Linked DNA regions of Homo sapiens: region 2 is reported to be linked to region 1. Evidence: microRNA targets listed by miRTarBase, many of them from high-throughput screens and not tested one by one. Region 1 holds a microRNA gene; the other region holds the end of a gene's coding sequence.

The links. The annotated mature microRNA hsa-miR-5572 reads GUUGGGGUGCAGGGGUCUGCU and lies in region 1 at 1,921-1,941, opposite strand. An mRNA with a match to its seed (bases 2 to 7 or 8) in the 3' UTR can be bound and repressed. Matches are read on the target gene's strand: a 7mer-m8 pairs with bases 2 to 8, a 7mer-A1 pairs with bases 2 to 7 and ends in A, and an 8mer does both.
Region 2: the mRNA of HOXD9 is a reported target of hsa-miR-5572. The part of its 3' UTR that is shown has no 7-base or 8-base seed match.

Annotation. Positions count from the first base shown.
Region 1 is chr15:80,579,714-80,583,119 of GRCh38, reverse strand. It overlaps MIR5572 (microRNA 5572), which reads right to left and starts at 2,017; the gene lies at 1,881-2,017. ARNT2 (aryl hydrocarbon receptor nuclear translocator 2) reads right to left here. Exons shown (of 19, transcript NM_014862.4): 16 at 2,571-2,709; 17 at 1,716-1,881. It overlaps ARNT2-AS1 (ARNT2 antisense RNA 1), which reads left to right. Exons shown (of 2, transcript XR_007064732.1): 2 at 359-3,090.
Region 2 is chr2:176,123,921-176,126,920 of GRCh38, reverse strand. It overlaps HOXD9 (homeobox D9), which reads right to left. Exons shown (of 2, transcript NM_014213.4): 2 at 1,984-2,987. The coding sequence ends at 2,746. Among named protein-coding and RNA genes, the nearest start is that of HOXD9, 2.7 kb to the right of the region's middle.

The DNA.
Region 1 (3,406 bases):
TGACCCAGTCTCTGGACTGTGTCCTTCTCTGGGTGGGGACCAGGTCTCCTGTCTTCCAGGGCTGATTCGGGGCCTGGCACTGAAGGTTTTTTTGAGTAGATCGGTGCCAGATGGTCCCTGGGCTTCCGGGAAGGACTAGGTACCCAGGAGGCCTTGAGTCTATGAGGCCCACCTTCAGGAGGAGGTGAAGGGGTCTCTCCACACCCGGGTGGGGAACCAGATGTGGAGAAGGATCTCACGTGTGACTGCAGGAAGGTGGATGCTATCCTGAGAAACAGGATTCTGGGCTCAAGGTGGTAACCGTGCTGAGTGCCTGGCTGACTTGAGAGCAACTGCTATGGGGTTTCTCCTTCCTCAGACAGGGTGCTGTGCTTCTAAACTGGGTTCCAGTGAACCACGTGGCGAGAATACTTAACAGACGAAGAGGAGACACACTGCAAGTAAATGGGACTAAGGCTGGAGGGACAAGCATGGCCTCAGGAAATGCTGTGCCCCAAGACCTCGGGCTGAGTGGGACGGACGTGCTGCTGTTAGTGGAGGAGGTGGGGAGGGCTGGGCAGCAGATGACAACTCCCCATTGTGTGCTAGGGGCTCTGCACAGCATTTTTCTTTCTTTTGTTTTTTCAGACAGGGTCTCACTGTGTCACCCAGGCTGGAGTGCAGTGGTGTGATCATGGCTCACTGCAGCCTCAACCTCCTGGGATCAAATGATCCTCCCACCTTAGCCTCCTGAGTAGCTGGAATTACAGGCATGCACCACAACACCTGGCTAATTTTTTTTTTTTTTTTTTGTAGAGACAGGGTTTTGCAATGTTGCCCAGGCTAGTCTTGAACTCCTGGGCTCCGGTGATCTGCCACCTTGACCTTTCAAAGTGCTGGGATTACAGATGTGAGTCACCGCGCCCTGCCTGCACAGAATTGTTCATAAGGCTGACAGACAAGCAGTTCTAATGGAAGCTTTTAACTTGCCACGTGGAAATTCAGATGTTTGGGCTCAGATTCACGCTCATCTGAGGAATCAATTCTGTAGAGAAAAGCTCTATGAGCCGCACTGCTGGGTGTCACCCAGTGACCTCACTGTGAGAAAGCAGGCACCAGCTTGGACTTCTTACCAGGACCACGGGTCTCTTATGAGCTTGTCCTGACGTGGAGTGGAACCCTAGCCCTGGGAGACATGCTGAGGAGGTTCCTTACACACACGGAGAGTGGGCAAGGCCCAGGATCCTGAGAAATGCACAGGACACAGCGGTTCCTTAACCCTCTATGGCCTGAGGTTTTGTTAACAAAGTAAGATAGGTGTTTTTAATATTTAAAAGAGACAGAAAACTTTGCAGTGTTATTTATGCAATTGATTGTCTCTATAGCTATTCTCTAGTTTCTTGAAACAAGACTATAAGGTTTTTGACTTGGGGGACCTGAAAATCCTTGCCAGGGCCATAATGGGTTAAAATGGTATTCAGATCACCTCACAGCACAGCAACATCATCCCAATGCCTTGAAAATGATAAAGTCAAATCACAAAGCCAAGGCCTAAGCATCCAGTCTCTTAGGAACACCATAGGCCTCCTCATAGCCAGAGAGAGAGGAGGTGCTTGGAAACCTCCAGACCTTGTTTTGGTAGCTGGGAGCTTGGAGCTCAGCCTCCTGAATTCAGGCTGTTCAGAAAGCATTTGTGCTGGCTTTCCCAGAATCTCACTCCCTCATTCCCCACCTACCGAACCCTGGAGTCCTGTTGGCAAGACTGGAGTAGGCATTCCCACTTGGCGAGGAGGTAGCTGGGCTGGAGAGGGGGCTGTAGGAAGAGGGGTCTGCCGGGTAGGTGTGGCTCGTTCCAATCCCAAAGGGAGATGACTGAGTCTTGCTGGACTGAGATGGGATTTGCTACAATCAGGACAAAGCAAAGAGATGGAAAGCATCACCAGCAGACCCCTGCACCCCAACCGATGCCCCAGGCTGGTCGCAGGGGCAGTGCCTGCTCTGGGTTGACAGTGACTCCCCATGACCCTCTTGTCTGGCTAGGCACAGGCCTGGGATCAGCCCGGTGTGTGAGGGCCCAGGAACTGCAGGATCTTTGGGGCACGTCTGGTTGAAGTTACTCCCCAGGGCTACGAGGATCCGGGCCCTCTGGAGTCTGGTTACCAAGGCCTTGGCATTATGAACACCTAGAACTCCCTCAGCCCAATCAACACCCACCCTCACAGTGACTATGAGGGTCTGGGGATGTCACAAGGGTTGGTGGTTTCATGCCCTCCTGGCGCAGGGGCAGCCAGAGGTCCAGAGTAGTGAGGGGCTCATTCTTGATGAGGTGTCTCAACCTGCCCAACCTTTCCCTGCCAGCTGCCTCAGGGCATGGCTGTAAGGAGAAAAGGCTGCTGAAGTTGCAGGCTGGGCACCTGGCTCTCCGAGAGCCCTGAGGGTGGATGGTGCTCCTGAGTAGCCAGCTGCTGTTAGGGTGGTTGGTTCCAGCTAGGAGCCGACCCATCCTCAGAACCGCAATCCAAAGAAAACACTTCCCAGAGTGCTCTGCCTCTCTGGTCACCCAGGGGAGATGCCCTCACAGATGCCCATACCTGTCCCGGAAAGGGCGGACGACTCCCTGTCCATGCCACCTGACTCTGGTTTAGCTGCCGGGAGATTTGGGACATGTTCTGGCCCGTGGAAGAAGAGGACTGAATATCATTCACTCCAGGCACATGAACCACTGAAGAGCTAGAAAAGAGGAAAATGCATTTATCCCGAGGACACACCTGGTTTGCATGAGTCTACGTGCCCAGCCAACCACACAATCTGCCCTGGGCCATCTTCCTGGCTCTCTCTCCATGCAGCACGTCACTAGAGAAAATGACTCACACATCGTGAGCCTCAAAGCCCCTTGGCCGTCCTCCTCTCCCTTCAGGGCTTCCTCTACACTGCTGAGTAGTCCTGCCATGTCTAGTAGTCTGGTACTTCCTCTCCTCGTTCTCCCCAGGGTCTCCCACGCACTCTTCAGCCCCTATCCTATGCCTGTACATCCTCTGCTCTCAGCAGATGATTTGGTTCCCAGAAAGAGAGAAGCTTCTTAGAATAAAAATCAGTCCCACTGTTCACTCACTCTTTTGTGCTCTGGTTAATTTGTTCCTTTGGGGCACCTATGAGGCTTAAGGATTCAGGAAATAGGTTGCAGGCTGTCAGTTTTAAACGGAAAGAAAAGCTTCTCAATGAAAACCTGCTGGATGGGGCCTAGTCCTGCTACCCAGAGTTTACCCCTCCCACCTTCAGTTCACCTTCGACTTAACTCAGTTTGTCTTTATTAGGCCCCTGCTGTGTGCCGTGCTCTCTGCATGGCCTTTGCAGGCTAAATCTCTGACCCTGCTTAGCTCCTCGGCAGGCACTGTCTGTACCACCAGGCGCTTCTTCCAGGAGATTT
Region 2 (3,000 bases), not on the chromosome of region 1:
ATTATAGGACAGGCTAGATTTAACAAAACCTACAACTTTCTAAATATCAACTGCCAAGAGGCTTTTTATTTTCCAGAGGAACCAGACACTTTGGCAACCAAGAAATTACAGAAATCAAGTATTGTTATGTTTTTGTTTTTCTCTTACAGCTGTTACTTTTAGGATTAAATCATGAATATTTGCTACTTTAACACTGTAACTTTAATGCTTTGGGGCCCACTTAGGTGGCCGATTTTGGGGGGAATCGAAGCCAAATCAAAAGCTTTTTGCTGGATCTCTGAGTGGCTGTCTGGAAAGTCCCTTTGCGCTTCTGTTTGTTGGAATTTCTATGGACAATAAATGGGATTTTAAAAATATATATCAAAAGTCATTGAACTAAGCATTCCACTAGAATTTTTTTTAAAAGCAATGACTATTCAATTGGCTTAAGTGTTTCCTGTTAGGTTAATCTTTTTACTCATCTTCAAAACTGCTTTCCTCCAGTTTAGGTGTAACAATTGTATTTTTTTATAAGTGAATAGACATAAATTTCAACAACATTTTGCTTCAAAGTTTGGAGTGGAGGGCCAGAGATTCTTGTGAATAGGCATCTAACTTCATCTTTTCCCGCGAACCACACTTCTGGGAGACTCTCACCTGGGTAAATGACCTAAGATCACTAACCACCCTATCCCCAGATAACAGGCCAATTTTTTTGTTTGTTTGTTTCTAAAGAACCAGCTAAACCGTGGTCATAGTCAAAATATTGTAAAATGCCATCTCCTTAGGCTACTTCCATTACCTGGTTCATTTCAAAAATCAGAAATTCATTCACCTCTTCCTTCCTACCTCTTTCATGTTTACTTCCTAGGTGCTCACACCTCACCTGGGGGCTCCCATGCCCCTGCCTTCTTGGTCCAACGCAGTCTTGTTTATATTTTATTGTCTAGATTTTAAGACCCAGTTTTGTCTGCATTTTTCCTTTTCTCCCACAAACACAAACATCAAAATGAGATGGTTTCAAAGCAAAGCACTGGGCCTGTCGTAAACTCATTACCTCCAGACGTCTGGCCCGCTAGATGGCTTTATGACACCTCGGCTCTTCCTGTTTTCAAAGAGCCCTAGGTACCCAGCTGGCCACAGTGGCAGGGGTGCGCAGCACCTTCTGCCGGATCTGGGCCTTCCTTGGCTTTCCCTCCCAGCCCCCCTATGCTTTTTCTTCGCGTCCCCTCTTTCATTGGGATCCCCCAAGATCTCTGCCACCGCCCCCACCTTCCACCCAGCTCAGGCCACTTGGCAGTGCTGCCTCTTTGGCCTGCAAATGCTGTGCTCACCCAAACCCTCACTTACAATGACCTTCATTTTAGCCCCTGAATGCAGCCCTCAGAGGGCCAAGCTGGGGGCTAAACATACACAGAAGCTGGGTGGGGGGAAGGGGGCGGTGAAATGGAGGTGGCTGGGGAGGAGAGCCTTGACCATTTTGATCGCTAAGGTCACTTTGGGGCTTTGGTGGGGAGGAGCAGAAGCTCACAGCCTGACCAGCTGGGACCTCCCGGAGCCAGCTAGCCCCACCGAGCTGGGACAGTTGCTCCAGAGTGTAGAGTTGGCCTTTCCCTTGTTTGGAGAGGGGTTTGGCATCTGGGGCTTCAGGAGCCCAGGGAAGGTTAGGGTGCTGTGTACCCAAGCCCCAGCCTGAAAGTGCCTGGCTTCTGGGGCCTGCTGGCTCTTCTGGGCGCTTCTGCAAGGCTAACACTGGGCCCAAGCACAGAGTTCGTGGAGGACCTTGAACCAGGCTTGGGGAGGCACCAATGTCCCCCCACAGGGTCTGTGCTGCTGCATCTGCCTACACAAAGGGATGTGAGGCAGAGAAGGCAGAGACACATCAGAGAGATCTGTCAGGTGGAAGGGCCCTGAATTTTTAACAATGTCTCACTCCCAGGGGTAGAGGAGAAATATCCTGAGTGTGATATTTTGCAGAGAGGCAGAGAAAGCAGGCACACAATGTTTAGGGCCAGCGTCTGGGCTCCATTTGATCAGGTCAGCATTTATTAGTAGGAAGCAGTAACATTTACAACTGGTCCTCGGGCAGGAACCGGGAGGGCCACCACCCGCGGCCGCCCACGCGAGCCCAGCCTTCAGGGGAGAGAGCAGCGCGTCCAATGCACTGAGGACAAACCCCAACCCGCCCGAGGCCCTGGGCTCCTCTAAGCCTCACTGGAGATCTCCACCGAGGTCCCGCGTGCTCCCTGAGGAAAGGGGGCTTTCGCAACTGGTGGGCAACCCCGCCGGGCTTCACCGTGGGCTAGCAGCCGGGGTGTCCGCACTGTTGTCGCTCTGCCTTCATTCTTGGAATTGGGGCGCACTTGGCCCCTGTTTGGGCAGTGCTGGGGGTGAGGGGACTAAACTACAGCACTTTTCAGAAACATGGGGGACATTTACACAAGAGAGGGCTCCCCAAGCCAGCTTGCACTCACAAAATATAGCATTTCTTAAGGAACCAATGGAGCAGGAAAGAGAGGGAGTGGGATAGGGCGAAACCCCAAAGCCACTTGGTTTTTCCAACACGTAAACGAGCAAATACAGAGTCCCCCAAATACCTCAGAGACCAACCACACAGTCACTTCTATCTAAAAAGAAAAAAAAAAAGAAGAAGAAGTCCAAGTCGCTGGAGAGTTTCTGGAAATCAAGCACCAAACACCCACAAAGGAAAACAGCAACAACAACAAATCCGCTGCCCTTGAGCGCTCCCGCCAGCACCGCGCCGGGTCAGTCTCCTTTGGGGCATTTCTCCTTGCTCATCTTTTTCATTTTCATCCTACGGTTCTGAAACCAGATTTTGACCTGTCTCTCTGTTAGGTTGAGAATCCTGGCCACCTCGTAGCGCCGGTCCCGGGTGAGGTACATGTTGAAGAGGAATTCTTTCTCCAGCTCAAGCGTCTGGTATTTGGTGTAGGGACAGCGCTTTTTCCGGGTGGAGCGAGCGTGGATCCAGTTCGCGGCGGGGTTGTCTACAAAGAGGGA